2 linked regions of the Homo sapiens genome follow. The protein of the gene in region 2 purifies or fractionates together with the protein of the main gene of each other region. This does not show direct contact. Each region holds a gene or a part of one and is shown on either strand. Other genes may lie near its edges. The genes, in order: CSPG4 and NXPH1.

Evidence for each region.
Region 1: the proteins of NXPH1 (region 2) and CSPG4 purify together in Homo sapiens (co-immunoprecipitation; 2 studies listed by BioGRID and IntAct, with this or other methods). This does not show direct contact.

Annotation. Positions count from the first base shown.
Region 1 is NC_000015.10:75,667,800-75,683,198, reverse strand, and holds the end of CSPG4 (chondroitin sulfate proteoglycan 4 precursor), read left to right. Parts: intron 1-157; coding exon 158-356; intron 357-457; coding exon 458-592; intron 593-739; coding exon 740-906; intron 907-5,312; coding exon 5,313-5,496; intron 5,497-5,814; coding exon 5,815-7,649; 3' UTR 7,650-8,877; downstream 8,878-15,399. UniProt on the Homo sapiens protein: Proteoglycan playing a role in cell proliferation and migration which stimulates endothelial cells motility during microvascular morphogenesis. May also inhibit neurite outgrowth and growth cone collapse during axon regeneration.
Region 2 is NC_000007.14:8,425,842-8,441,912, reverse strand, and holds the start of NXPH1 (neurexophilin-1 precursor), read right to left. Parts: upstream 8,305-16,071; 5' UTR 7,158-8,304; intron 6,310-7,157; 5' UTR 6,200-6,309; coding exon 6,146-6,199; intron 1-6,145. UniProt on the Homo sapiens protein: May be signaling molecules that resemble neuropeptides and that act by binding to alpha-neurexins and possibly other receptors.

The sequences.
Region 1 (15,399 bases), on a different chromosome or scaffold from region 2:
AGGCCCTTTGTGCAGGGGAGCCAGAGTGGCGCCAGCCTCGATGCCACCCGAGGGGCTGAGCCGCAGCAGGACTGGAGCCCTGGTGGCAGCCCAGGGCCGGGGAGGAAGGGGTGGGTGAGTGCGGCAAGGCAGAACCTTCACAGGCCTGTGTTCCCAGATGTGGGAGGGGGCCACTGCGCCCATCCCTGCGGAGGCTCTGAGGAGCACGGACGGCGACTCTGGGTCTGAGGATCTGGTCTACACCATCGAGCAGCCCAGCAACGGGCGGGTAGTGCTGCGGGGGGCGCCGGGCACTGAGGTGCGCAGCTTCACGCAGGCCCAGCTGGACGGCGGGCTCGTGCTGTTCTCACACAGAGGTGGGTGCTGAGGGCCGGGCCTCGGGTTCCTGCTGCCCACGGGGGTGCCCTGAGATGGGGAGCCGGCTCGGGCCAGCTGGACCCAATGCCCCTGTCCCCAGGAACCCTGGATGGAGGCTTCCGCTTCCGCCTCTCTGACGGCGAGCACACTTCCCCCGGACACTTCTTCCGAGTGACGGCCCAGAAGCAAGTGCTCCTCTCGCTGAAGGGCAGCCAGACACTGACTGTCTGCCCAGGTGGGTGTGCTGATCATGGGCATTCCTGGGTGCCAGGAGCTGGGGCGGAGCTGAGGGTGGCATGCCAGGGTCACGCTGCCTCTTTGCAAACACAGGCCTGGACCTGGCTCCCAGTCAAAATCTGATATCCCCTTTTGCCTCTGGCAGGGTCCGTCCAGCCACTCAGCAGTCAGACCCTCAGGGCCAGCTCCAGCGCAGGCACTGACCCCCAGCTCCTGCTCTACCGTGTGGTGCGGGGCCCCCAGCTAGGCCGGCTGTTCCACGCCCAGCAGGACAGCACAGGGGAGGCCCTGGTGAACTTCACTCAGGCAGAGGTAAGGGCCCAACTTTGCAGCCACCACTCAGATGCCCCCAGCCTCAGGTGGCCGCTGTGCCATGGACATCATGTGGACATGGATGCCAGCTCCAGCATCACTGGCAGCAGACGTTCCCGGGCCTGCCATTGTCCAGGCGCTAGTGTCCTGTCCTCCAGGAGCCGCCAGGCTGGCAGGGCAAGTTCATGTTCCCAGAAGGAGGGAGAAGGATGCAGAAAGTCGGGGATACAGGGCCCTAGAGCAGGGCTGGGGTCTTGGGGTATAGCTTCCAGAAGGAAGCTACAGCCGGACCCGAGGGTCTGGAGAGGGGGCACCATGTGGGGGCACTAGTGGTACCCCAGTAGCTGATGAGGGGCAGTGCTTGGTGGGGGATGGAGTTGGACGTGAAGCAGCGGCTGGGCCTGTGGGCAGAGGTGTGAGCCTGGGGCTCAGGTCAAGTGCCAGCCAGAGGCAGAGTGGATCCTAGGGGCAGATGAGCTGATGAAAGGCAGCTGAGTCAGCCAAGAGGGTGAAGCTGCTGTTCATCCGTCCTGGTGGCTTCAGAGACCACCAGGAAGAATTAGAGCTCTCAGCCATGGGTAGCAGCAGACTCTCTGTGATAACTGTGCCATGGGGGCCAGCCCAGTCATCACTTAAATGAACACCACTCGCTGAAGACAGAACAGGAGTTGTTCCATAGCAGGGCAGAGCGGGGCAGACTCTTCCATGGGCCATCCCAGGCAGGCGGCACATGTGATGCTCCCGCCAGGAGGCTGCATGGGCATCTGGACCCAGCACATGATGACAGTGAATTCTGGGTAGGGAGTGGTCTTGTGGGGCGCAGAGCTGACTCTCACTCAGGAGCCACAGCATATGGTACTGCCCCAAGTACCTCCTGAGGGGTCCCCCTGCCAGCCTTCAAAAAATGGCAGAGCCCACCCCAGCCCCCTTTCCTAGCTCGGCAGGGACTCCTGAGCCTGGCACTCTCCCTCCTGAGAGGTGCAGATGGTATTCAGCAAGTGCAAAGGCAAAGTCCCTGCCCAGCAAGTGGCTCAGATTTGGGCATCTGGAAGGAGGTGGCTTTGACAGGTGGAATGAAGTTTCTTGGGCTTCTCACATCAACACCTCCCAGTCCCAGGTTCTGTATTTCCCTGGCTCCCCACTCCTGCTATGGCCCCCTCCCCACAATGAGATATTTGTCAGGCTGGTGTCTGCAGCTGCTGCGTACCCTCAGTTGCTGGGAGCCTTTGTCAAGAATGCCCAGGAATGGAGAGGGCACGGGACCAGGCCATCAGCAACCCTCTTGCACTTTATAGTCCCACGTTACTCAGAGCTTCCCCGTGCCCCAGAAATATGAAGGACTAGACTGAATGGACACCAGGGGGTCAGGCTGGCAGTGCCACCCAGGAAAGCAGGGAAGAGGCTACGTGGGCTACCCTGGCCCACTCTGGGAGGAGGGCAGGACTGGGTATTGTCTTGACAGCAGCCCTGTCCCACAACACTAAACTGGGCAGGGAAGGGGTCAGGTGTCCCCATTTTTCAGATAAGGAAACAGGCTCGTGGAGGGCAGGTAACTTTATTCAGAGCACATGGCGAGTAAGAGGCAAAACTTCTGCCTGCGAGTCCAGGATTTCCTTCACTGGAGGACACTGCTTGCTCCCCAGAGCTCAAGACCCTGTTTTTTGTCTCACTCCCACCCACAGAGCTCCCGTACCCAGGCATCAGCTCCCACTCCCACTCCTGGGGGCTCCATTTCCTTCCTGCCCACCATTCAGCCTGGGCCAGAAGTTGCCACTGGCAACTCTAGTCCTGGGCCAGATCTGGCCCACAGACGTGTTTATTTGGCCTACAAAAAGCAGCTAATACTTTGAAGTTAATTGTCAACATATAACCTTTGGGAAATTAAACAAAAAACTTGATTCCCATTTTCTTAAAAGGCCTGTGTTCCCTCTTACAGCGAAAGCAGGGGAGCAGCCACTTCCTTTAGAACAGGTGCTAGCCCCTATTCAGATAGCTCGGCTCTCCTTCAGACTGGGCTCAGCTGCCCTTTAGCCCAGGCTCTGCTCCCCTTAGACCAGGCCCTGCCCCCACCTCAGACTGGGCCCTGCCTCCCCTTAGCCCGGCCCTGCTCTCCCTTAGCCCAGGCCCTGCCCCATCTTAGACGGGGCCCTGCTCCCCTTACTCCGGCCCCTGCTCCCCCTTACTCCGGGTTCTGCTCCTAGAGTCTTCACAGGTTAAGACCCTGTTAAGTTTCCATGTTACTATTGGGCAAGTCCTGTTTTTCTCTGAGAAGAAAATAGTTCCCAGTGTTTCCTAAAAGGGGAAAATAAGGCCGGGCGCGGTGGCTCACAGCTGTAATCCCAGCACTTTGGGAGGCCAAGGCGGGTGGATCACGAGGTCAAGAGATCGAAACTATCCTGGCTAACATGGTGAAACCCCATCTCTACTAAAATACAAAAAATGAGCTGGGCGTGGTGGCACGCATTTATAGTCCCAGCTACTCAGGAGGCTGAGGCAGGGGAATCGCTTGAACCCGGGAGGTGGAGGTGGAGGTTGCAGTGAGCCAAGATCGTGCCACTGCATTCCAGCCTGGGCGACAGAGCAAGACTCCGTCTCAAAAAAAAGGGTGGGTGGGGAGCAAAAGATAGGCCAAAAGAACACATTGTGATTGGAGGTGGAGAAAACCGTTTTTCTTCCTGGAGCGAAGAATATTCTTTGGTGTTGAACTGCAGGCAGCACCATAGAACAGCAGGTGTGTCTGGAGTGGAGGTGAGGGGAGTTGAGGTCGCAGGGGTGATATGGTCACAGCCAGGCCTTAGTGGTCAGATGGGGAGACACTGCACTATGTGAGCCAAAGAGCCCCATAATCTTCCCTTTCAAAAGGCTCACTCTGGCTGCTGTGTTAGGAACAAAATGTAATGGGCGGGGGACTGCAGCTGGGACACAGGAAGCTGTTACGATAATCCAGGTGAGAGATGCGGTGGTTTGAGGGAAAGAGAGGATGCAAGGGTGGTTCCAAGGGTGTGGCCTGAGCCCTTGAAAACGGAGCTATAGTCTCTGAAGCAGGATGACTGTAGGAGGTGGGGGCCGATCGGGAGTGCAGCCGGGGCAGGTTGAGTTTGAGGTGTCTATTAGATATCGGCAGAGGTAGCTGGAAACATGAGTCTGGGGTTCAGGGGAGAGCAGGCTAGGCTGGAGCTACAAATAAGGGGGTCTCAGCACAGCTGGCATTTGAGGCCAGGAGACTGAATAAGGACTCATGGAGAGTGCCTGTAGACAGAAAAGAGCCTGGAGACCTGGCCATAAGATGTTGGGGAGAAGAGGAGGACCAGCCAGGAGAGTCTGTGAGGTAGGAGGAACCCCAGAGTGAAGTATCCCAGAGCCTGTGGCTCTCTTGGAGGAAGGGTTGCTTGGCGGCACCAGTGCCACTGAGCAGTTAAGAGGAGGCTGAGAGCCGACCGCTGGATCCAACAACACGGAGGCCTCTGGTGCCCTTGGCAAAAGGAGATGTGGCGATGGGGGAGCAAAATCCTGGGTAGAGAGACCCAAGAATGCCTGGGGGAGAGCGTGGACTATGCTTTTTGAAGTTTTGCTGCAAAGAGAAGCAAAGGGGCAGGGGTGAAGCTGGTGGAAAATGTGAAGTCAAGAATAGTTTTTTCTGGCCAGGTGCAGTGCCTCCTGCCTGTAATCCTAGCACTCTGGGAGGCCGAGGCAAGTGGACCGCTTGAGCCCAGAAGTTCAAGACCAGCCTGGGCAACATAGTGAGACCCTGTCTCAACAAACAATAAAAAAAAATAGCTGGGTGTGGTGGCATGTGCCTGCAGTCCCCGCTACTTGGGAAGCTGAGGTGGGAGGATCGCTTGAGCCCTGGAGGTCGAGGCTGCAGTGAGCCATGATCACGCCACTGCAGTCCAGTCTGGGCAACAGAGCAAGACCCTGTCTCAAAATAATAATAATAATAATTAATTAAATAGCTTTAATGTAAGTGAGACAAAAGAATAGCATAGTTGCATAATGAAGGGAATGATGCATCTGGGGGGAACTGACACCATAGGAGAAAGCCAAGAGACAGTAGAAGTGGTGTCTTCAGAAGGCAAGAGGGGATAGGATCCTGTGCACAAGAGGAAGTACTCGCTTTAGAGAGCAGCACAGACAGATCATTGCATTCCCCAGAGGTCAGAGAAATTAGGCGATTTCCCCAGGGTGGCAGAGTTGGGGTTTGAGCCCAGGCTCCGGCTCCAGAGCCCAGCTCTGCACTGCATTGCCTGATGTGACCCAGTGAGTTAGTGAGGGAGACAGCGGGTCACACGCACAGACCTGGGCACACCCAGGAGAGCCCAGAGTGGGGCCTGAGGAGACAAAAGTGCTCAGTGTCTGGACAACACAGGCTGGACCTGCCTCTCACCCCACGATGGTGTCTCCCCTAGGTCTACGCTGGGAATATTCTGTATGAGCATGAGATGCCCCCCGAGCCCTTTTGGGAGGCCCATGATACCCTAGAGCTCCAGCTGTCCTCGCCGCCTGCCCGGGACGTGGCCGCCACCCTTGCTGTGGCTGTGTCTTTTGAGGCTGCCTGTCCCCAGCGCCCCAGCCACCTCTGGAAGAACAAAGGTGAACAGCATGATAAGCTGGCAAGATTGTGGGGAGGGACAATGGGAGAGGCCCAGGAGGAGGGGACACGAGGCCAGGGTCAGCAGCTCCTGTCTCAGCCCCCAGGACCTGGGAAGTCACAGGGAGGGTGAGTGGGGAAGCTTTGACATCACAGCGGGGACATAGTCCTTATCCTCCTGGGAACCCTGAGCCCCACCCTGGAGGACCTGGCTTGATGGTTGGGGGGAGGCACATCCTTGCCCTGAGGCACCCCCAGCTGAGGGTCCATCACTCTCCCCTCAGTGGGCTGGACCCTCATAGCCTATGTCCCACCCCCAGGTCTCTGGGTCCCCGAGGGCCAGCGGGCCAGGATCACCGTGGCTGCTCTGGATGCCTCCAATCTCTTGGCCAGCGTTCCATCACCCCAGCGCTCAGAGCATGATGTGCTCTTCCAGGTCACACAGTTCCCCAGCCGGGGCCAGCTGTTGGTGTCCGAGGAGCCCCTCCATGCTGGGCAGCCCCACTTCCTGCAGTCCCAGCTGGCTGCAGGGCAGCTAGTGTATGCCCACGGCGGTGGGGGCACCCAGCAGGATGGCTTCCACTTTCGTGCCCACCTCCAGGGGCCAGCAGGGGCCTCCGTGGCTGGACCCCAAACCTCAGAGGCCTTTGCCATCACGGTGAGGGATGTAAATGAGCGGCCCCCTCAGCCACAGGCCTCTGTCCCACTCCGGCTCACCCGAGGCTCTCGTGCCCCCATCTCCCGGGCCCAGCTGAGTGTGGTGGACCCAGACTCAGCTCCTGGGGAGATTGAGTACGAGGTCCAGCGGGCACCCCACAACGGCTTCCTCAGCCTGGTGGGTGGTGGCCTGGGGCCCGTGACCCGCTTCACGCAAGCCGATGTGGATTCAGGGCGGCTGGCCTTCGTGGCCAACGGGAGCAGCGTGGCAGGCATCTTCCAGCTGAGCATGTCTGATGGGGCCAGCCCACCCCTGCCCATGTCCCTGGCTGTGGACATCCTACCATCCGCCATCGAGGTGCAGCTGCGGGCACCCCTGGAGGTGCCCCAAGCTTTGGGGCGCTCCTCACTGAGCCAGCAGCAGCTCCGGGTGGTTTCAGATCGGGAGGAGCCAGAGGCAGCATACCGCCTCATCCAGGGACCCCAGTATGGGCATCTCCTGGTGGGCGGGCGGCCCACCTCGGCCTTCAGCCAATTCCAGATAGACCAGGGCGAGGTGGTCTTTGCCTTCACCAACTTCTCCTCCTCTCATGACCACTTCAGAGTCCTGGCACTGGCTAGGGGTGTCAATGCATCAGCCGTAGTGAACGTCACTGTGAGGGCTCTGCTGCATGTGTGGGCAGGTGGGCCATGGCCCCAGGGTGCCACCCTGCGCCTGGACCCCACCGTCCTAGATGCTGGCGAGCTGGCCAACCGCACAGGCAGTGTGCCGCGCTTCCGCCTCCTGGAGGGACCCCGGCATGGCCGCGTGGTCCGCGTGCCCCGAGCCAGGACGGAGCCCGGGGGCAGCCAGCTGGTGGAGCAGTTCACTCAGCAGGACCTTGAGGACGGGAGGCTGGGGCTGGAGGTGGGCAGGCCAGAGGGGAGGGCCCCCGGCCCCGCAGGTGACAGTCTCACTCTGGAGCTGTGGGCACAGGGCGTCCCGCCTGCTGTGGCCTCCCTGGACTTTGCCACTGAGCCTTACAATGCTGCCCGGCCCTACAGCGTGGCCCTGCTCAGTGTCCCCGAGGCCGCCCGGACGGAAGCAGGGAAGCCAGAGAGCAGCACCCCCACAGGCGAGCCAGGCCCCATGGCATCCAGCCCTGAGCCCGCTGTGGCCAAGGGAGGCTTCCTGAGCTTCCTTGAGGCCAACATGTTCAGCGTCATCATCCCCATGTGCCTGGTACTTCTGCTCCTGGCGCTCATCCTGCCCCTGCTCTTCTACCTCCGAAAACGCAACAAGACGGGCAAGCATGACGTCCAGGTCCTGACTGCCAAGCCCCGCAACGGCCTGGCTGGTGACACCGAGACCTTTCGCAAGGTGGAGCCAGGCCAGGCCATCCCGCTCACAGCTGTGCCTGGCCAGGGGCCCCCTCCAGGAGGCCAGCCTGACCCAGAGCTGCTGCAGTTCTGCCGGACACCCAACCCTGCCCTTAAGAATGGCCAGTACTGGGTGTGAGGCCTGGCCTGGGCCCAGATGCTGATCGGGCCAGGGACAGGCTTGCCCATGTCCCGGGCCCCATTGCTTCCATGCCTGGTGCTGTCTGAGTATCCCCAGAGCAAGAGAGACCTGGAGACACCAGGGGTGGAGGGTCCTGGGAGATAGTCCCAGGGGTCCGGGACAGAGTGGAGTCAAGAGCTGGAACCTCCCTCAGCTCACTCCGAGCCTGGAGAACTGCAGGGGCCAAGGTGGAGGCAGGCTTAAGTTCAGTCCTCCTGCCCTGGAGCTGGTTTGGGCTGTCAAAACCAGGGTAACCTCCTACATGGGTCATGACTCTGGGTCCTGGGTCTGTGACCTTGGGTAAGTCGCGCCTGACCCAGGCTGCTAAGAGGGCAAGGAGAAGGAAGTACCCTGGGGAGGGAAGGGACAGAGGAAGCTATTCCTGGCTTTTCCACTCCAACCCAGGCCACCCTTTGTCTCTGCCCCAGAGTTGAGAAAAAAACTTCCTCCCCTGGTTTTTTAGGGAGATGGTATCCCCTGGAGTAGAGGGCAAGAGGAGAGAGCGCCTCCAGTCTAGAAGGCATAAGCCAATAGGATAATATATTCAGGGTGCAGGGTGGGTAGGTTGCTCTGGGGATGGGTTTATTTAAGGGAGATTGCAAGGAAGCTATTTAACATGGTGCTGAGCTAGCCAGGACTGATGGAGCCCCTGGGGGTGTGGGATGGAGGAGGGTCTGCAGCCAGTTCATTCCCAGGGCCCCATCTTGATGGGCCAAGGGCTAAACATGCATGTGTCAGTGGCTTTGGAGCAGGTTAGGCTGGGGCTCATCGAGGGTCTCAGGCCGAGGCCACTGCGGTGCCAGTGCCCCCCTGAGGACTAGGGCAGGCAGCTGGGGGCACTTGGTTCCATGGAGCCTGGATAAACAGTGCTTTGGAGGCTCTGGACAGCTGTGTGGTGTTTGTGTCTTAACTATGCACTGGGCCCTTGTCTGCGTCGGCTTGCATACAGAGGGCCCCTGGGGTCGGCCCTCCGGCCTGGCCTCAGCCAGTGGGATGGACAGGGCCAGGCAGGCCTCTGAACTTCCACCTCCTGGGGCCTCCCAGACCTCCTGTGCCCCCACCTGTGTGGGCAGGTGGGCCAGTCTTCGGGTGATGGGACCAAACCCCTTCAGTTCAGTAGAGAAAGGCTAGGTCCTCTACAAAGAGCTGCAAGACAAAAATTAAAATAAATGCTCCCCACCCTAGATTTATTAGCCTGAGTTTCGACCTCCATACCCCTGTCCTTCCCCAGCCACCTCTCAAGGGGTTGCAGCAGCAAAGTGAAGGGAGTGGGGGGACTTGGGGATCCCAAGGCTGGGACATGGTACCAAGGGGGAGGGGGAGGAGAACCACCACAGGTGCCTCCTAGAAACTTTTACAAGGAAGGCTTCTGCTGGTGTCCACCCTCCCAACAGGAGGACCAAGTGTGCTGCTTCTCAAAGCCAGAGGAAGCAGCAAGGATTCAGAAAAGCCAGGCATCCCCGCACGTGGCCTGAGAGGCCAGCATTGGGTTACAGAGGGGTTCTGAGGCCGCGGCATCTCCAGAAGGCCCTCTCTGAGTTACTGAGTCACCACCCTCTAGACCTCTCTTGAGGGTGTCGCAGGGTTGGGGGCAATGGAGACAGATTCTGGGTCCCAGGGGATATGCCTGGCCCTGACAGTAGACTGAAGAGAGGAAGAGAAATGTGAGAGGCCTCTGAGTGCAGCCAGGGTCAGTGGGTGGGAAGCCCTGGCCAGCCTCTGGCAGCTGACCTGCATCTGGGGACCAGAGTCACCTCTTCCCTGCATCCCAACATCTGAAACATTTGAACCAGGAATGAGCAAGAGAAGTCTCCTCCCCACCCTGCCCCTGGACCGCCCCTCCTATGACGCCTCTCGCATCTCAGTGTCCAGCCTCCTAGGTCCTCCTCCACTCTGAGAGGCTTCGGGCAGGAGGCCAGGTACATCCTGCTGTTAGGGCCCCCAGAGGACCCAGGGGAGACTAAGAGTCAGGGAGGGGAAGAGGGCTGTCACACAGCAAGGCGCTTCTTGCCACACTGAAAAGCAGGACTCCCCAGGGAGGGTGACCAGGGCCCCAGAGATCCCTCTGCACCCTGAGCTCACCGTGCACAGGGCTCCGCGTGAGCCTGCTCCGTTCCTTCTACAAGCCTGGTCTCTCTGGCGCCCCAGGCCAGCCTGAGGCAGGGGCCTGGCCAAGGGTGTCTCTACACCACATCCCCTCCCAGGAGCTCAGGCTGGAGCCTCAGGGCCCTGATATCTGGAGCAAGTCTCTACCCAGGGTGACCAGTTTCCCTGGAAGTGTAAGCTGAGAAGAGGGTGAGAGACCCAGCAGGCAGGATCTGGCCTGGTCTCCGATTTCCCCCAGAGGACTGAGGACACACTCTGTTCACATAGCCTGGCCCGGCCTGCCCTGCCCCCAGGGAGCTGGCACCAGCTGACACCGTTCCAGCTCCTCTGAGCCCATGCAGGACAGTGGGCTGGCACCCAGGGCACTGTGCCAGCAGCTCTGCTAGGACCTGGGAGAGGGTCTTTCATGGGCACACCAGAGCTGAGAACCCAACCTAAACGTGGGACCTTGGTTTATGTAAATCCCTTTCCCCAGGGCTTAAGGGGCTTGTCTCCACTTTACAAAGTAACTCACCATCCCCCTCCTTTAAGGAGCCAGTTCCTCCCAGGCGCTGGAGATAACAGCCAACCCATGTGCAAGTGTTCAGGAATGTCTGGGAGCTCCTGACCCTCTCCACACAAACAAACATACACAAATCCATAATGTGCCTTTGTGCACGCCATTGTGTATATGAACACAGGCTCATGCATGACCTTCAGACACACAACACAGAGATAAATACCTACCTACCTAAGACACAAACGCATACGCGGGGGCACACACAAATTTCAGAAGTATATGCTCCTTACCTGGGGCCCCCTGCAGTCCCAGCTAGCCTAGTCGGGCAAAGGAGTCAGGATTTTCTGCCCATTAAGGCACTCAAGCTGACATCAGCAGAATTGCAAAGTGAGCCCACTGGTGGGGGAAGGGGACAGGGTAGGAGTTGCCAGAGGGGCCCAGATCCCCAGGACCCCAGCTTAGAAACCCTGCCCACCACCCTAAGTGGCTTAGTCTCTCAGGTGCTAGAGAAGGGGCTCCCTCTGAGCCCTTCCCTGCATCCTAGAAGCCAGTCCTTTAAGCAGATTGCTCTGGCAGCCAGGGAGCCCACTGAGCTTGCACACTCATCCCCCAATAGGAAGCCAGAGAAGTGCTTCTGCCACCCCACACCGACCTCCCCTGACCAATGAGAACTGCCAGGGCTGCTGGCATCTTCCTCCAGGCCCTGAAGATTCCAGATCTCAAAGAGGTGGAGGTTCTTCCTGGGCAGAACTCCAGACCTCTCTGGTTGGATCTCCCATTCCTGGCCGTAAGATGTCGGGAAGCCCTGGTAAATAGTTGGGACCAAGGTAGAGAACCAGACCCGCTGGGCTCCTCTACACAGCTCCACTCCGACCCTAGGGCCTCTCATAGGTAACGCCATCCCTGTGGAGTTACCGCTAAGATTGGTCAGGCAATAGCCAGAGCATTTTGTGCCAAAAATGCAGTGGAAGATGTAGATAGGAATCCAATCAGCCCTTCCTGAAGAGCCGCAGGCATACCATTGAATAACTACCTAACCCTGACATGTGCCTTCACCCAGCGGTGTGAGCAGGCCAGTGAGGGGAAGCGCAGAGTGGGAGGGCTCACTGCCTCTGTCTGCTTCCTCCTCTCCTTAGAGAAGGCTGGTCCTTTCCATGGAAGGCCCAGCCACATGGCAGCTAAAGCTGGGCATGTTCAGCTACATCCTGGTTACATTTCTATTCTCAGTGTAATGGATTACAGTATTTAACTGATGGCTACTAGCCTCACAAAGGGCATCAGCTCCTTGGAGGGCCCTCTGTGGCCACCAAGATAATTGGTGGGTTGTGTTGTGTTCCTTCATGTTCCAGATGTCCTGTGAGCCCCTAGAGACAGAAGCAACCCTGGATTAAATCGCCCAGTTGCCAAGAAGGACTTTTTTACCCAAACACAGCCTCAGCAGGGGACTAGGATAGTTCCCCTGCCTGCCAACCTGAGATCCGTGCTCTGTTAGTCCAGAGCCTGGAGCTAATCCCAAGGCTTCCTTCTGATGCCTCGTGAGATTGCAAAGGACCCAAGAGACACAGTCTCTGGGTCTTGCAGACTCAAATGCAATGAGTTGCCTAAGTCTTTGCTGCTCAAAGTGGAGTCCATGAACTGGCAGCACCGGCATTACCTGGGAGCTTGTTGGAAATGAAGACTCTCAGGCCCTACCCCAGAGTAGCTGAATCAGACTGTGTTTTAACAAGGTCCCTGGTGATTAGAAGACACATGACACAGTGTAAGTCCTGACTGAAGTCTTCCCCTCACCCTTTAATTAGGGGACACTAAAATGGGAGAGGCAGGGCCCAGACCAAGATCATACAGTGAGCTGGTGGCTGAGCTGGAAGAGGGGTCAGACCTCGAGCCCTGTCCCAGGGTTTTCTATTCCACTTCAGCTCTCACTCTTGCAAAGACCCCCACATCCGCTGCAGGTTTGGAGGGATGGGTTCTGACATGGGTTCCTTCCCCAGGGGACTCCAGTGAGGACAAGAGAGGGAAGCAGAGGAGGGTAAGACCAGCAGCCAGATCTGATCCAATGGGGAGGCTCTGCAGGAAACAGCCTACTCCCATCCTTACCTCCCAAAGATGGGGCCCTGGGAAGTACAGTAGCCCCACCACCCCACCTTCTGTAATCTGGCTGCTCCTTCCCTTCCTGTCCCTTCCCTGCCCATCTGGTCTCACCTGTCAGGGGAAGAGATGAAGGGAAGTGTCCGGCCAATGTCACCAGTCAGTGCCTGTGTCATGCACAGGGCCTCCCCCATGGAGGAGCAGGGCAGCCAGCAGGAGAGGGGAAAGAAGCCACCTGTCACACTGCCAGCCAGGCCTGGTCAGAAGGAGGGCATGGGACACCCAGAGCTCTCTGTCCCGCAGAGGTGCCCCACTGTCTCTCCTGTCCACAGAAGGAATGCTGGTCTATGGCCCCCAGCCTGTGGGCTATCCTGGTGCTGGGAGTGCCTTTGGGACCCCCACCAACTCCACTCCCCTCCTGGGTTGTTGAGCCAAAGCCCAGGTGAAGGCCCCAGACCCCCACACCCTGCAGTAGGCATCGTTCAATTCTATACACTCCACTAAGGCAGTGTGTAGCCTGGCCTAGCCACTGCTGTGCCCATGCTGGGTACACAGTAGATGTCCAGCAAACATCTACTGCCAGAACACAGCACCCCCTTCCCTCAGACATGCCCTCAAGCCAAGAGGCCTCTGACCACCCATCCTACCCAGACCTCTCCTGGGTTCCCACTCTGGCTCCCCTGCTCCTCTCACCCCCAGGGTTGCTGGCTGGGCTCTCGATGGCTGCTCTGGCCCCAGATCTCTGCTAGGGCCCAGGCTGACCTGACCCCAGGCCCTGAGTTTCTGTCGGGTGGATTTAATCTTTCCCTCCCAGATGCTTCAGAGCTCACTGCACACCTCCTTCAGACTCGCCCGTGGCTCCCTCCCACCCAGACACCTGAGGTCATTCTGCCTGAACGTGTTCTGCCTATAGGGTCTATCTCAGAACGCTATGGGCAGAACACGTTCACCAAATCACACGTGGGGGCTCACCACAGAAAGAAGCAAAGTTAAGTGGGGCAGGAGGAGGAGATGACCCCAAACCCCCTTACACTCAGCCTCCCCCTGCCCAACAGCCCTCCTGAGAACATCCAGGCTCATGGGGCGCTGTGCCAGCCGGGCTAACCACTCACAGGGCTCACTTGATCACAACCTTCGGGGGCAAGGGGCAGAGCAGAGCCACGGATGCCCTCACCTCTCCCCCACCCAGACGACCGTGCATTCAATCAGGGGGCCCAGAGAAGAGGTGTGACTCAACCATAGTCACAAAGCAATTCACCGGCAGAGCTAGGCCTCCTAGAGGCTTGAAACACTTCCAGATGCCAAAGATATGTCTCTCAGCAGTGGGATGCCCAACACCTGGAGAGGCATCGGGGCCAGGCAATGGGCCAGGGATGCCAGACATGCTGGCCAGGGCAGAGACCTTCAAGAACCAGACTGCGGCAGGGGAGCCTTGTTGAGTCTTGTTGGGGAAGGTGGCGCCTGTGCTGGGGTGACCTAAAGAGCTGCTGGGCAGGTGGGCGAGGCTGGCAGAGCCTGAGCGCTCCTGGAAGTCAGTGACTCAGGTAGAAAGGCCCCTTCTGAGTCAGCCCTGCTAAAAGGTTGCCTTGTGAGTACTGCACCTGGACAAGCAACTGGGGCAAGGCCCAGGGACTCCATGAAGGTTCAAGGCCCCAGGACCTCTGCTCCCTAATCTGCCCTGAGAAGCTCAGAGTCTGGGGGCAGAACACATGAACTGAAGGAAGGAGGGCAGAGGCAGTGACTGTCCACTTGGTGAGCTTGTACAAGTCCACCCACCTGTTCTAACTCAAGAAGGGACCACTGGTTCGAGAGAGTATTGAGCCAGGCCTGGGAGCTCAGTGCCTGCTTTCTGCCTAGAAGCCCTCCTCCTGTCCCTTCCAGCATTCATGCTATGTGTCTGGCCAGAGGGCCCCAGCCCAGCTTCTGCCCTCTCTCTGAATGAAGATCTACCAAAACAGTATAACTGACCAAGGTTTCTTTCCAAAGGGTCAGTGTTAAGGCAAAGCTCTTAGAACAGCCCCTCACACACAGTAAATGCTCAATAAATGTTGGCCTTTTTTTTGTTGTTGTTCGTTTTTTTGTTTTTTTTTTGTTCGTTTTGTTTTGTTTTGAGACAGAGTCTCACTCTGTCGCCCAGGCAGATGTGCAGTGGCACGATCTCGGCTCGCTGCAAGCTCCGCCTCCGAGATTCACGCCGTTCTCCTGCCTCAGCCTCCCGAGTAGCTGGGACTTCAGGCGTCCGCCACCACGCCTGGCTAATTTTTTTTTCTGTTTTTTGGTAGAGACGGGTTTTCGCCGTGTTAGCCAGGATGGTCTCGATCTCCTGACCTCGTGATCCACCCACCTCGGCCTCCCAAAGGGCTGGGATTACAGGCGTGAGACACCGTGACCGGCTTTTTTTTTTAAAATACGGAGTCTCGCTCTGCCGCCCAGGCTGGAGTGCAGTGGCGTGATCTCGGCTCACTGCAACCTCCGCTTCCCAGGTTCAAGCGATTCTCCTGCCTCAGCCTCCCGAGTAGCTGGGACTACAGGCGCATACCACCATGCCCGGCTAATTTTTGTATTTTTAGTAGAGGCACGGTTTCACCATGTTGGCCAGGCTGGTCTCGAACTCCTGACCTCAAGTGATATGCCCGCATCTGCTTTCCAAAGTGCTGGGATCACAGGCAAAAGCCACCATGCCAGGCCGACCATTCTTATTATTGGTGTTATGATGGTTCCTCCTATTGAATGGCCCAGCATATGGGTCTGGCATGTTGTAGGTGCTTGACAAATGGTAGAAGCTGATGTTATTGTTATTATCATAATTTATGGCAGCTATCTCAGTGCCCGACACATAGTAGGTGCCGAACAAATGCTCAGTCCTTCTTTTGGATGGCCGAATGCATGTGTTCCCCATCTGGCAAAGAGAGACGCAGGGCCATTCTTCACTGGGCTGTGGCAGGGAGTGAAGTGAGGTGTGCAGCAAGGGATCCAGTTCTGGGTAGGAGCAGCTGGCAGTGCCACTCTGCCCTT
Region 2 (16,071 bases):
CCTCCGCAATCAATAAAATATACTAGGGAAAGCTCTTTGCAGAGGAGGTAATTAGGTTTTCATCCCGTAGCAGAAACGCAGCGCGCTCATCAGAAGTTTAAACAACAGCCACCAACCCGCGAGGGCAGGGCAAACTTGGAAAATGCGCAAACGCGCTCTTGGGCGCGCGGAGGGGTTTGAAGAAGCCGCCAAAATATATTATCTCAATAAAAAGCCGCTCTTGGAAAGCTTGCATAGTAATTGAGACGGGCGCTCTTTTCTGATCTGGGTTGGCATTTCCTCATCTCGAGCTGACAGAGCCAACTCAGGAAATTGCTGGTAATATTCATCTGGGGAGCACTTTCATTAAACGTAATTCATTCGACTTTCACAATAAATTGAGTGACATCCTTACAACGGAACCTTTTTATCCTTGATTAAGTGCTTGCCAAGCTTTGGTTTCCCACTTTATTGTCACATTCCTTCAAGCAGAGTCGTCAACATGCCAATCTGAGGCAGAAAAATGCGCGCGCTGTGTTTACCAAGCTCCGGGAGGGGGTTAGTGCTGACATCCAGAAAAAGAGCTGGTCGGGAACTTGACTAGTGGATAAATCAAGACTGAAACTTCCTGCACACACGCGACGGGACCAGGCAAATAGTGGCTAAGAGAATGCAGAGGGAGGCGAGAGTGCAGACCCGCTTTGAGACTCGGCTGCACCATGAAGCCGCTGACCCAACCGCTCTCGGCTGGCAGGCTCGCCTGCCTTTCCTTAATTAGAACGGCGAGGACTGTTAAGGTCTTAAAATGAGATCTGAAGCCCCTAACGGACAATGGTTGCCCAAGAGGAGCTTTCCTGAATCGAATCAAAGCTAGACACTTTTTATTTTTAAAAAAATCAGAAAGAACGCACACTTCCTAACTTCCCACTTGAGAGCAGGCAAACTTTCAGAGCTTCCATCACTTGCTTTACAGGAGCGCAAGAAGAGTGTTATTCCTCATTCCTGAAATTCCCTTTTGACTCGCAGCCGAATTATTTGAGGGCTCTTCAGATCCAGGAATTCCAGGTGAAGCTGACAAGCACCTTGGTATTCCAGGACTGGGAGGATGGGGAAGGCATCTCTTTGCCAATGCGAGGCTCCTTCTTCCCCATCGCCCCCCTAGTCAACTCCCCACCCCCTATAAAATCAAAGAAGCTCAGGGCAGAAAATTTCTTATTGGAAAAAGCAATATCCAAATGCTTTCGGCACTCAAATGCCCTTTCGAAAATATTGTCGACGACGGTTATTACCCGGACAATGCTGTCAATTTCTGTAGTCTGCAGAAAATCTTTCCTCAGATAGAAAAATAGGACACTGGGCACCTATCTCAAAAAAAAATCAACCAATTTCCCAGCCACCTGATATATTTTTCACCCAGACAACACTTTCATTAAGGAAGAAATAGCCGTCAACAATTCAAAGCCAAATAGAAATCAACTTCGCACAGAGGAGCCACGAATTTAATGGCTTTCCGAAAAAATACCGCTGAGAAAGTTGGAGCAATCCTGGTTCTCTCCGAATACTAAAGTCAGCTTCTCTAAAGCTGTCACTAGAAGGCCTCAGACCAAGATAATCCTTCTGGAAATGGGGCAGAAAAGTGTCCCACCCAAGTGCTTCCCACACACTTGGGCGAGCTGCTTTCTTGGTCAATGGAAAGTTGAACATTTCAGGGAAATGCCTAGAATAGTAGCAACTTCTGTGTCCCCCAGAGCTCAGGAATACATCTTAAAACTGATGAGTTCTAAGGCTGTGCTTCTGGGGTAGAGGGCCTTCCAAAAATCTAGTCTGAATCCCGTATGTATCTAAAAGGCTGGTCTGTAGTAGAAGAGTCAGGAAATGCAGTGGAATGAGAAACTTTTAGTACTGCCTCCAAGAACTAGCCTTAATAGGGAACACTTAATAGCCACTGTCAGGAAATTTATTTTATTTTGTTTATTTTCAGTAATAAGCTCAAATTGATTAGAATTTTCAGTGTGCAGCTGGCTTAATTTTTAAAGAATGAGAAGCACACATACCTAGTCCAAAGAAAAGACATTGCTGGTCTCTCTCCCTCTGCTTTTCCCCCAGCTCCAATATACCTTAACAGCCATCTTCATAATGAGTGGATTTCACCCAAATGATCTAGCTTTTAACAGTGCAGAGGTAGTGGTCCCATAGATACATTAATTACTCTCCAAACTCTATTAAACAATTGGTGTAGAATTCACATTTTAAGGATATCCCAAATTTGAGAGAATAGATGGCTCATAATGTGGCACAAGTTTAGAAAGGATTTTTAATTCATGCCTATTTTGATTTAAAAAGCAACTTGATTATTAGCAATTTAATTCCTAGCAGAAATGGTGGGACCCCTTCTCATTAGAATAGAGCTGTGGATGGGTGACTAGTCACAGTAACTTTATACAATGCCTTGTCGGATGCATTGGATTCAATTTCTGAGTAGCTTTTTCATTAGCATGCTCAGAAAGTGCTCATTAGACTCACCTCTCTAACTGAGAGTTACCACAGGTGAGCCCCCAAACAGAATGCCACACCCTGTGGGAGATGCTTTCCTGGTGTCCTGGCCTATCCTTCTACTTGATCCAATGAGGCTGATTCAAGTTAGAACCCCCACTCTTCAGAGCAAGGAACCATATTTTTCTAGCTGATTCAATATATGCTTCAATAAAGTTAAAATGCTATCATCCTGCCATCCCATTGTATCATACTGAAAATATCCTGGAATTGGTCCAGGAATAATAAGAGAATAAAGATTGCAAAACTTTTTTATTATTTTTAATAAGCGTTGTTAACCATAGACTTCTCTCCTATTGAATTCAGGCTTTTAAATCTGCAATACATAACATTCAATAGTCTGAAATTTTATTTACCTTTATTTTTAAAAGTTAGTTTCCCACCCCCATGCATTTATGGCTGGAGCTTGTCCTGTGGTGGATTTTGAGTATTCCAGCTAACATGCTTCAGAAGGTAACTCTGTGGGCACATATCTAATTAGTTTCCCATTAAAGTACTAAAATAAGCTTCTATTTTGAACTAGGACAGACTTGTCTCTCAAAAAACACAAAAATCCTCAACCTAAAGCATTCAAAGAATCCCGGGCCCAGAAACATACTTTGCAAACATTCACCCAAATACAGGTAGGAAACTGTGGCTTGGTGTGGGGCATTGACCTACTGCAGAGTTTTCATAAGAAGTTATTCTCAAATTTGGGGGTATTTAAGGTATTCACTTTAAACAGAAGCCTAAATATTTCTTTAGGAGATAACTAGACAAGTCTTGTTTCATGGACTTAATGTGGTGATTACTCCCTGGGAAACATAACTAGGATACCATGGGCTTAAAGGTCAAGGTGCACTGAGATATCAGCTAAGAGGTAAGGCATAAACAGAGTGATGCAGGCACTTAACTAGTGGTGTGAGCTCACAAAGACAAAAATTATCCATCAAATTCTTCCCTGGCTTATGTCAGTTCAAGAGAAAATTAAAATAATGGTTTTGCCACTCTTGCCTTCTTTGAATGTAACTTAAAGCAGCTCCTGACAATCTGTATGCATCCAGTGCAGGTTCTTACAAAGGGATAAGATCTTCCAATGTGCAGCTACAAACAAATGATCAATCCAGTTAACTGTATCTGGTATTTAATGAAATAGATGAAGAAAGAAGCCTTGATCACTTCTTGATCGGTTCATTGCCCTAGAGTTTTAATCAAGGCTCTCTACTTCTTTATTTGCCTAAAACCATCCCGAAATGACTGCCCAATTCACCCTTTTAAATTCATTTCCATGGTAGAAGTCAGCTTTTTGCTCCTTCAGGAAAACAGCTCGGAATTCTGCTGGCAAATATCCATGGGATTACAATCCCTGGAAATACTGCCTTGGGTCACAGCCATCAGCTGTAGTTTTTGTGGTGCATGTGGTTTCTAGTCCCCGACACACAAAAGTACTTTAGATTGGAGAAAAAAGAACGGACTTCTAAATAGCCTTCTCTATTTTATTGTTCACATTTCGTATTGTTTTGAGTGAAATTGGAAAAATTGTCTCCTTTCTCTGTATTGCCAAAAGGCATTCAGGTAATGAAGTCTGTAACTAAACGGTAATTGAATCAGCATAATTTGCACACTGAATGGTTTTCAAATGCTCCCAGTTTACAATTAAAGGAGAATTAATGCGCTTGTTGTTGAGAACGCAGCGCATTAGAATAAATCCAGCACTGTTGTTGTAATGAGTGGAAAACGGTTTAACTGCCAACAAACACATTTAAAATTTAACACAAAGTATTGATTTCACTTCTGCTTTTGATAGATTATTTTCCAGACTATCGAAATACTTGCTCCAAGCAATAAACTGCACCATAGCCACAAGCCCTTGCCGTGTGTGTGAGCACAGCCCAAGGACGTAAGAACAGTCCTCAAGTTCAGGTCAGGCGTAAAGGTATGCAGAGGAAAAGGGCAAGCGGGTTACGATGGTCAAGGGAATCCTTAAAATTACCTCCCCCCCGCCCCCGTCGCTTTCACTTTGCATTCCCTCCCCCCATCTCTCAATAAAAAAATTCTATATTTCTTCTGGCCAAACTTTCTGCCCTCCATCCATGGTCTCTCAATGTCAGTGGGCTTACTGAACACAGGTGGGGGTGAAAATGATTGAAGATGGGAAATGGGAAGGACACTTTTTGCATTCCGCCTGCGTTCCAGCGGGTAAAGGCACAGACTTCGGTGACAGAGTCAGAAAGGCTGTTCTTTTGGATTGGCTGCCCTGGCTTTCACCTGTTTACCCCAAGGTGTCCTGTGGGCGAGGACGCTGATGCGCAGCGCCCTCTGGCGTCCGCGGCTGCTACGGTCAGGCGATAAAGGGGCAAAGACAGGCAACATTGAGGGTTCTTGGATTGAAGCTGAAATCGGTTAAATACACATTCACACACACATATATATACGTGTCACTCACATACACAGAATTCACACAACTCGCAGCTTTGCAGCCACATGCACCAGGGCAACGGCCGAGAAACGCTGTCAATTGTAGGGATGGCAATTCTTTCAGGCTTATGGGTTCTATCTAAGGCTCTTGGGATTGAGGAGCGCCAGTATCACCTCCAATCAGAGGTGTAGCCCATCAGAGAGTTCGGGCTGCTTTAGCGCACCTCACCCCTAGACAGAACATAGCGAGCCCTCGGTGCACTCCCGCAGCCCAGGATGGGCTATGGGGGTCGGGACACTGAACACAACTTCACCAGCAGGGCACAAGTGTCCCTTACCCCCATTCCCCCATTCCCACCCCAGAAGCCAGACCTGAAATATCTCATTCTCCTTGTCTCAACATGGCACAAACAGCTACCAATTCACCACAACAAAGCTCTTCAACCAGGAGCCGAGTTCCAGCAGTGTACAAAGTCCAGCCCCCCGGAAAACTCTGCTACTGAAGGACAAGGACCGCGGCTTTGTTTAGAATTCTCTCCCTGGCGACAAGGCCTACCATTCCCTAATAATGGACTAGTCACTGGAGATGGGATTTAGTTATTTGATGAAAAGGGGAGGTCGAGACGAGAGGAAGGTGGACATGTTTGCTGGAGTATCTCTGTCCTAACTCCGATTGCTTGCAGTACCCCTGATAGTTAAACTTATCCTGTCGGAACCCTTACAAGTCAAAGAAAGTTAACTGCGCTTCTTTATGTGTCTCATCTCCAAATCGGGGAAGTGGGTGGGTAGATTCACTTTTAAACTCACAGACCTGGGCAGATTTGTTCTTTCCACCACCCAACTACACCCCCACTTCCCTTCGTTTAAACTCTGTGCATGAGCTACTGAGAGTTCCTGCCTTCCACTTCTTCTCGTTGGCCCTCTATCACATAAAGCACCCCATCTCACTACCTCCTTGGGTTTAGGGTGTCTGGGGCGCCCTAGCCCCTTTCAAGAATCACGCGCAGGAGACTGGGGGATTGGAGCAGAAAATGGGGTGGGAACCCCGGAAAATCCGCAGGAATCCAGAGACCAGCTTGCCAAAGTTGCTCCAACACAGCTGCTAGGAAGCTGCTCTCACTGAACTGGCGGCGTAACCCTTCTCCCGCGTGTCCCCAGTTTCCTTGCCTCCCGGCCGGGGTAAAAATGCGAAAGCCCCGAACCTTCCAAGACTTACCAAGTAGACGGTGGGCTGCAGGAGGAAAAGCACGTACCAGCACGCAGCCTGCATTCTCCCGCGTCTCAAACTTCCTTGGCGGTGCCTTCTTTGAGTCTTTGTTCCTTCAGAAACATAGATCCACCTGACATCCACTTTACAGAGCAAGGAGCGCTCTCAGCAGCCTAGATGCAAATAAAATTAGACATCCCATGACTACGCGGGCAAGGTTAGGCTTGACAATCAAGCGGGGAAAGGGGGTCGTAGCGGGGAGTGGGGGACCAAAAAAAAAAGGGAGGGAGGGTACGAAAAATTGAAAAGCGAGTAAATCCAGCGCCTGAGACCAGCAAGCGCGCGGTCCGCAGCTGGGGAGGCGGGCGGGCGGACGAGAGGGAGGGTGAGGGGCTCCTTGCCCCCTGCGCTCCTCGGGTGCGAGTTCCCAGGCGGCGGAGCACACTGAGCCGCGTGCAGGCTGGTTCGGAGCCCAGGCTTCTCCGGCAGCGAGACCTGCCCTTGTGTTGGGTGGCCCGGCGGCTCGGACTAAAGGCGGCGGCTGGTTCTTCGCCAGCCCTGGCAGTGCTCACACACGTACACACCAGCAGAGAGAGATAGAGGGGAAAGATAAAGGGAGAGAGAGAGATTGAGCGAGGGGGGCGCGGTGAGAGGAAGAGGTAGGTAGAACTGACCGCGATTAGGTGCTAGGTACCTCAACACGTTCGGTGAAGTGGGGGTGGGGAAAGAGAATGCAATTTGCATACAGGAAAGCAGGGATCAGTTTACCCATTCGAACCCCTGGCGCACACAGAGATACCCACGAATGCTCACAGTCACATCTCTAGCACTACTTTTTTCGAGCCAAAGGGTACAGCCGGTCGCTAACTTCTAGAGAAGAAGCCTCCTCCGAGCTGTGAGGGTCACCTGCCAGGCTTGTTCTCTTTCCTAACCAGCGCCCCTCCCTGCCGTCCCTTCCTCGTGCCCACCACCCCGCTCCCAGGTGTACCCTCCGGGAACAGCGGAGGCAAAGGGTACGTACCGCACAGGACTTGGGGCGAATCCTGCGAGAAGGGACCGCTCTGGGCAGGCTCCATGGAGAAGCTACTCGGGCCTGGCGTCTCCAGCGCCCCGGACGTGCCCTCCCAGGCGCTCCGTCTCCATGCTCGAGCGCAGACGGGTCCGGCTGCCTCGTCCAGCTTTGGCGGAGTCGCCGTCCCAGTGCCCGGGTCGCGCTCAGGATTGGTTCGCGGGAGCCAAGGCTTGGCACAGTTGGATTCACGGTGCAGGAAACTTAAGAGGCAAGAGAGGGAGGGAGCAGTAGAGGAGGAAAGAGAGGAAGACAGAAAGGGAGGGAGAGCAAGAGGGAGGGAGAGAGGGGAATGCGCCGGGCTGCTGCACCGGACGGACTGGGACTGCCAGCGCTGGCACCCGGACGAACAGTCCAGGACTCTCGGCTTCCCACAGCTGCCTGAGGATGGTGGAAATGACTTAAGGGGAGGAGACTGAGCAAGTCCTCTGGACTTGAAGTGGAGAGATAAGACACTGGCCTTTCGGAAGAAAAGAGAACCACACGGCAGACGAGAGCAGTCCGAGTTTCTGAGGGAGGGGTGGGGTGGCGAGAATCTGGAGCCTGCGGCACACGGAGCAGCTGTACCTCTACCCGCGACGCTGGGAAGCCCAGGAGCCGGTCCCCAGTGGAGTCCCGGGCGCTGTCCCTGGTGCTGCCCGGCCACCCGGGGACGCTCTGGAGCGCTTTGGGTTTCCGGCGGCCGCGGTGGTCGTGGTTTCTCCGCAGAGCCGCGGCTTGGCACGCCTACCTTCCTGACACGGACAATTACTTTGGCACGTGGGTGAATGATTCCTCAAAGACTAATTAGTACCCTGTGTAAACAGATCCGGCTCTCAGGCTCTCGCGGGCTGGGCCCACAGGGACAAGTGGCTCCCGCGGTGTCTTCGGTGGCCGCAGCGCCCCCTTCCCGGGGGGCGTAGGGAAGATCGCAAAGCCCAGGGGAGTGGCGGGAAGAGCAGCCGGGAGTCGCGTAGGGCGGGGAAGGGCGCGGGAGGGTGCAGGGCGCCCCTGCCGGCCTCGAGCGCCGACGCCGGGCGCCTCCGACCTGTGGCTGCCGGGCCGGAGGCGGGGGAGCCGCAGACTGCCAGCCATTCAGCTCGAGACAGCCGAGAGGACTGGGCGACCTTGGCCTCTGGACTCCTCGCCGCCGGCTGGGCTGAGCGTGAAGGGGGAGGAGGAGGACGGGGGATGCTTCGAGCCGTCACCACCTCCCTCGCTACTGACACCTCCCACTCAACCAGCGTCTCCCAGACTCGGCCTCTGTGCTCCGACTCTGGCTGTCTCTGTCTTTCTCAGTCTCTCCCTTACTGTCCCTATTTCTCAGTATCTTTCTCACTCCCTCTCTCTCTCTGTCTCCTTCTTCTGTCATTCTTGTGGTCTGCGTCTCTGTCCCTCAGCATCTTTCTGCCTTTTTCTGCCTTTCTGTGTGTCTCACTCAGGATTTCTGACTCTAGGTCTCTGTATCTCTGTGCCTCTACCGTGTCCCTGCCATTCCCCCTCAAACCCTGTTTTGTTTTTTGTTTTTTTTCCTCCACCCTTCCAGTGCACCACCACCAGAGCAGTTTCACCAGTCTCGGGAGACAGCCAGGACCAGCTTCTTCTGGTGCTGGTGGGGTTGCCAGTGCTCCTTGAGCTTGCCCAAATTCAGGGCACAAATCGGAACCCGGAAGAGGGTATCTCTTCCCCAACCTTGCCCATTGCATCTCCAAGCCTGCCCTTCACCAGAGCCTCTCCTGGGGTGATGCACATATCCATATCAATCTGTAGGAATTGTATGGAAATTTATCTCAGGAACCTGAGTTAGTGACATCAAAATCGAATTGTGATATTTAATGAGTCTGGAATGTCCTTTCCTCAAGTGTGGCTGTGGACACTCTGGCAGGTCTGGGCCTAGATACAATGTACACTCTAGACAATAGGTCCCAGGCTGAATTCCCCTGGATGATGGAGACCACCCCTCAAACAAGGCAGTGACAATCAGCAGAGCCACCCAGTCCTGCAGCAGAGGCAAGAGGAGCCCCACTGAGACCTTCCCCTGGAATCAGATCTCCAAAGACCTCCAAATTAGATCCCCACTGTAGAACATACCTACCAGCACTTTGAGGTCTACACTCTCCCTTCCAGCTAAAAATAACTCTTTAAAGAGCAAGCTCTTCTAATCTTAAAAGTTGTACTCTGCTGCTGTGACCTCCTGGAATTCATTGGGGCATATGCAGAATAAAGCAGTGAAGCACACCTTCTAACTGTGTCTCTGAAAATCCACTTCAGAAAAAACGCACATGTACATATAGCATAATTACAATGTTTTCTTGACTATTTTCACTTACCAGCTATTTCATTTTCTTAAAAACTTTAAACTTTAAAGAAGAAAAATTAAAGTATTGGGGCACCCGTATCTGAGGCCAAATGGTCAAAGCAGGGGCAAAAAAAGCTTTGTCTAATTCCATCCTCTAGGATTCATAAGGCTATCCTAAAATTGATTCCTATTTGTACAGGAGCTCCCAGGCCTCCCAGACTGGAGTGTAGAGCTGGAGCAAATGTTGCCTGCCTCTATCTGGATTCCCAGCTACAATGCTGTCAGAGCTGAACTTCTGTCTGACCTTTGGGAAAATGAGAAAGAATCCGGCTAGCTTTGGAATATACCAAGTTCTTTTCTAAACCTTACTTTAAAAACATTCTGCTTCTAGTGCCATTTAGCCTTAAAAAAATACTGCTTGTGAAATAGAAAGATGATCAGAGACCTTAAAATGTCTGTCTGAATGGGACTGATTATTTAAGAAAAGCACCACAGGCACCTAGTAATGGGAACAGGTTTGACACTTTGTTCTATGACACAGGATGCCAAAGAGCTTTTTCTGTTAATGACCTGAGATCTTCTGCCCAGACATTCAACCTTCGCTGGATCCTATGAGATACTTGGCCTGTGATATAAAACAGTGGCGGATTGTCATTTTTCATATTTCACAGGGGTCTTCATCTCCTATAATACTCAACCAGAAAAGGATACCGAGCCACCAAGTAACACAGAAAAATGTATCGTTTCTGCTAAACCACTCCAGTTTTAATAATATAATATTGGGGGAGAAGTGGACAAGAATGGTTCATTCACCCTCCTTTTTTCCTATCATTTGCTTTATAAAGAACAATGGAGCAATAAAAGCATGATTTTCTTACATTCTTCTGTTTCAAGTAGTATCCTACTCTAAAATGCACTCTTAGAATACATGAACAGTCAGCTTCATTGAGTGAGAACAAAAGTGTGATTACCTTAAGAAGTATAGTGTTTGTACCAATTTTTACTGACTTTACTCATGCTGAAAATTCTTTCAGAAATACTGTTTCCAAACTTTGTGTGCAATGCAACTTAATACAGATATAAACTTAGTATGAATGATAACCACTGTAAAACACAACCCTCTGCATCTGCTTTTCCCCATGTCTACCTGGTCCAACCTGAAATGAACAGTACGAGAAATAATATAGATCTTTGTCTCTAAGAAATATATTTTTAAAGGGTTAAAATGGGCTGCATCAAAAGAAAATAGTGAAATTAACTTTCCTGAAAGTTAAAACCAGAAGAAATTAAACTAGAATCTTCTGACATATACTGATAGTTCTGTTAAATGTAATTATCTATTTTGGTTTGGTTCATTTGTATGATTCTCTTTTTTGGCAGGGGAGAGGGAAGGGAGAGGTTTGAATTATCTTGGGGCTGGAGAGAAGAGAGACATAAAGAGAGAGGCTGAGTTCTACAAAATTTTGTCCTAAAATGAACCTGTCTTAAACACCTTAATATCATCATATTCTACCCAAAATCCAAGTAAAAACAGAGAACTATTGTTACAAAGCATCCAGCTGTGGTCTTGCTTAAGCTTCAGGCCAAATTACATCACTTTGTACATAGTACTGCATTGTACCTATTTTTTTTCCTAATAGTGATAGAAAACTTACAAAGACTGTATCACCCTCCTGCCCTTAATTCAGTATAACCTGGCATTTGCATGTTGTGTAGTCCTGGACAAGTGCCTAAATATTCACCTGGCCTCGGTACCCTCCTCTGTATAATGCAGAAGTAAGGTTACATGATGTTTTAAATGATTTCTAATTCTAAAGTTCCTTTATTTTACCTTTTATGATTAAATGCAGGTTTAAAAAATTTACCTGCTTCCCAAAAAACAATTGTGTACTGCATTATGATTTTCAAAGATATTAACAGTTTGAAAAAACATTCTTTTTTGGTGCATTTCAAAGATTTTTTAGTCAAGTGTGTTTATAGGTTTGAGCCAAAGATTTTTTCTGCATTTCTTCCCTGCTCCACCCTCATAACCTTTCTTCTAGGTCAGAGGTTGACTGTATTGAATTCATCATATTACTTTTTCATGTAAATTGTTCTGTACATGTTTTTAATGTCACTGATTTATGAGAATCTACACTCAAAGTGGCATCCTTATTATACTTATGAATATCGGTTAGAAAAGATCCAAAGCTATTTCCACTACTTTTGCAGAATTCTTTTTTTTTTTTTTTTTTTTTTTTTTGAGACGGAGTCTCGCTCTGTCGCCCAGGCTGGAGTGCAGTGGCGCGATCTGGGCTCACTGCAAGCTCCGCCTTCCAGGTTCATGCCGTTCTCCTGCCTCAGCCTCCCGAGTAACTGGGACTACAGGAGCCCGCCGCCACGCCTGGCTAATTTTTTGTATTTTTAATAGAGACGGGGTTTCACCATATTAGCCAGGATGGTCTCAGTCTCCTGATCTCGTGATCTGCCCCTCTTGGCCTCCCAGTGTGCTGGGATTACAGGCATGAGCCAACGCGCCTGGCCTTTAGCAGAATTCTTAAATGTCACTCAGGACTACTAAAAAAGCCCCTGGCCTCTCCACTCCCCCAACATATTTTGCTAGTGGAAGGAAGGATTATTTGCATAGTGATTTTTACCAGCCTGGAATATTTGGTATTTGAATGTGGTAGAACTCGGTTAATAACTATGAGGCATGTGTGCTAAATTACCTTTACAATAATGCTTTAATAACAAGGTCACTGGACTAGAGAGGAAAAATAGCCGTCAAGCTCTAGAATAAAAAAAAACTAAAGGGAATCAAAAAGCTTTATGTAGAAGGCATTTTCTTTTTTAAAGGTAATTTATATGCTCAGCCTTTGTATCCACATTTCATTTATTCTACTAGGTGAAGACAGAGGGTTCTCAAAGGTAGGGTAGTTTTAGTTATGCTCAAAAACTTTAAAAAGAGGATGAACATAATAAGAGAAATTGAAGGAAGCCAGCATTTAAAAGGCAGTTGAATGTAAAAGATGGAAAGATTGGGGTCATCGCCCGAAAATCATAATTAAAATTTTAAAAAATATTGTGACTAAACAAACCTTTGCATTATAATCTCATTACAGAAATTCTTTATGATGATTCCTCCAGAGATTATTAATTGACAGTTCCCTAAAACAGAATCATTAGAGACAGAGAACTTGATAACCAATGTTCTGTTAACAAAGCAAAATACAGTATCTGCTTTCAGCCAGAAAGAACACTGGGACTCTCAACCACGCAGGGATGGAAGAAATTGTTAAGGACAAAGGCTACAAGCTCTTTGGTTATCAGAAGCTGAAAATGAGTCTGTAAATGCATAGTTCATCTCCATAATCTAAAGTACCTAGATATTTTGAAACATACATGTTTGTCCAGCTTTTATCCTGATTTGACAATATGAATACATCACTCTAAAACAAGATGACTTATACAGGCAGGGAACAAAGAACTGCTTCAACCCAAATATCATAGTGTCATAGTGATAACAGTGTTTTGGATTAGACACCTTTTAAATAGGAGATATCACAGGGATGCAACAAATCTTTCAATCTCCCTTTTTAATATCAAATTAATGAAAACAACTATATTACAATTTCACCATAATTAACTTCAGGGGTCATGCTATAAAAATCACATAATATTACATTTTTCTGCTTCTTTTAGTTTCAATAATAAAATGCTTTTGATAAAGTTCAAAGCAAAATAGTCTAACATGAAATTTTGTATTAAGTAGATGGTAATTTCTCAAAGCTCCATAGCTTTCAACAGGGTAATGGCTACCAATTACCAAGTGCCAGGCAAATGCCAGGAACCATACCCTGTGTTTTATTTATATCATTCCACTGTATCCCTAGTGAGTCCATGAGCATCAATCAGCAATTTAGTTTTAAAAATAAACTTCCCGGGTTAGATGAGAAGATCTCATTCACACTCATCTCCACGAAGGCTGACTTGAAAATCTGAGAATCACTGGATCGTTAATGTATACCCCTCTCTCTAGTAACTGTCTCCACTATTTTAGTTTCAGTGCCACTATTCTCTCCATGTATTTTAAATAACCCACTAACCATTCCTTTTCAGATTATCTGTGTGCTAATCTTCCTACATTAAACATTGGTGCTCCTCAGGGTTCCATCAATAACTTTCTTTTCACTCCTACTAGACAATCCTGTCTAGTTCCATGTTTTTATTATATATTAACATCTAGTGACCACCAAGTTCATAAAGTCCATTTCTGATGTTTTTCTTTGTCTGAATATTCAATTGCCATCATGTCCACTTAGATGTGCTAGAGGAACCTAAAATTAATATGCCTAAAACAGAAGAAATTATGTCATTACATTACACATATATCCTGTTAGTTGGTGTCACACACTGTGGAGTTCTCCACTTGTAATGGGACTAAGCTCATGCCCTTTGCCAAAAGATCTCATGGTGAAATGGAGAAGTATACCTCCCCATATATGCAAAGCCTTTCTTTTTTTTCTTTTTTTATTTTCTTTTCTTTTTCTTTCTTTCTTTCTTTCTTCCTTCCTTCCTTCTTTCCTTCCTTCCTTCCTTTCTCTCTCTTTCTTTCTTTCCTGTCTTACTTACTTGTTCTTTTCCATCATAATCAGAGTCTTTAAGAGGCATAGCATGTTTCCACTTGCTCCTTCAGCCACCAGGAGAACAGCATGCACCATGTAGAAGCTGTGTCCTTCAGCCTGAGACCTAAAATGAGAAAGCACATGAAGACCAGAGCCTGATCTGGATCTGGAGCATAGCCACCAAGCTGACCTGTAGTTCTGCAGATCCAAAAGTGAGAAACAAATGTTTACTCTTTAACTGTTGAGATTTGGGTGTTGTTTTGCAGCATTATCACAGGCAAAGCTGACTAACTGATCCCACTAACATACTGGAAAACTTAAGTACCAGATTTTCTTATGCCTTCTTTTTGGTCCTCCACATCAAACATAAAATTACCAACACATCTCAATTTTATTTCTAATTATCTCTTATCTCCTCTCTTCTCTGCTCCTGCTCCTGCTCCTGCTCATAACCCAGGCTCATATCATTAGTCATCTGGGCTGTGGAAATAGTCTTTTCACTGATCTCCCCTCATTTCAGCTTCTGTCTCCATAAATATATCCTCCTCACTGTTACCTGAATGATGGAGCTAAAACCAAAATGTTCCCACATCAGACACTTGTTTAAATCTCCTCATAAACTCTCCACTGCTTACAGAATCAAGTCCAGCTCCCTAGCTCAGCACAGGAGACCCCCTGTGAGCTGGCCTCTGTCCACTCCATTTTTTTTCCTTCCATCTGGCCCCTCTTCAACTACATGCTTCACATTCATCAGTTACCTATCCTTACAGCTTCTAACACACAACCATATGTCTCAACTTGGAGCCTCTGCACCTTCTTTCCTTTGCTTTGACGCCTCTCAATTCAATCTCTAGGTAAACTCCTCATCTTCCTACAACCTCTGCTCAAAGATCACCTCTCATCCTCTCCACTTTTCTCAGGGACTTGTGTACTAAAAAGTATTCTTACTATTTGCACCATGCTGTTTATACATGTCCCTTCTCTACTGGACAGCAACATTCAGTTTTGCACCCCCAGCCTTACCTTGAACTAGATTGAGCTGAATGTTCAATCATGCTCAGAAAGCTCAGTGTCCGAAAAACAGCCTCGTGTACCCCACAGCAGGAGAGCATATCAGAGCCTCTGCAGCAGCAAGTCCTCATCTAGGAAGTTCTCAGAGAGTGCGTAGTTGGAGGAAGTTTTCAGGCAAACATCAGCCAAGTGAAATGAGCAAAAGGAACAGTACTAGAGTGGGAAATTTTGGCCAGAAGGCACAAGCTCCTTCACCGCAAACATCCTCAGAGACTGCTCAGAATCAGAAACTGAATGGAAAATTTGCGCTGAATGAGTTACTCAGGACAGATTCATTAACCCCCTCATGTCCAGAGCCAAGTATGTGGTGATACCAAAAAGACCCCAATGTCCCCAAATTCTAGCTCACTCTGCACAGGTACACCCCAAATCCTATCTCACAGTTCAGTTGCTTCACCACTTATTAGTATCTTACCCAACAGTTTGTTACAACCAGACCTCACCTTATCACTCTACCTTCAGGACCAGATGAAACAGGGAAAGGAGATAGAGGGAGAAGAGTTACAGAAAGCACTGTGCATACCATTATCATAACGACCACCAACTCTGGACCTGGGAAATGGAGTTAGCCATCCCCGGAGAAAAACAACACTAGGCCTTGGAGCCCTGGGCTATTGAATTAACCTTACCAGTAACTATTTAATAAAACCACTCTTTCCAGGTCTCTTTTCTACACCTATGACAGTTTCCTTTTGTCTCCTGTGCTGGTTGTTCCTACTAACCACTCCCAGGCTAACAATTTGCCCTCCAGCCCACCCCTTTGGTTTGAAACTACAGGCTAATATCTCTATCTGCCAGACGGAATCTTCACTCAAATGCCCGCCATTCTTTGATACAAAATGTTCAATGGTAAACTAGACAATACCCCCAATACTATACTCCACCCCCCACCCCCAACACACATCTTCCTATT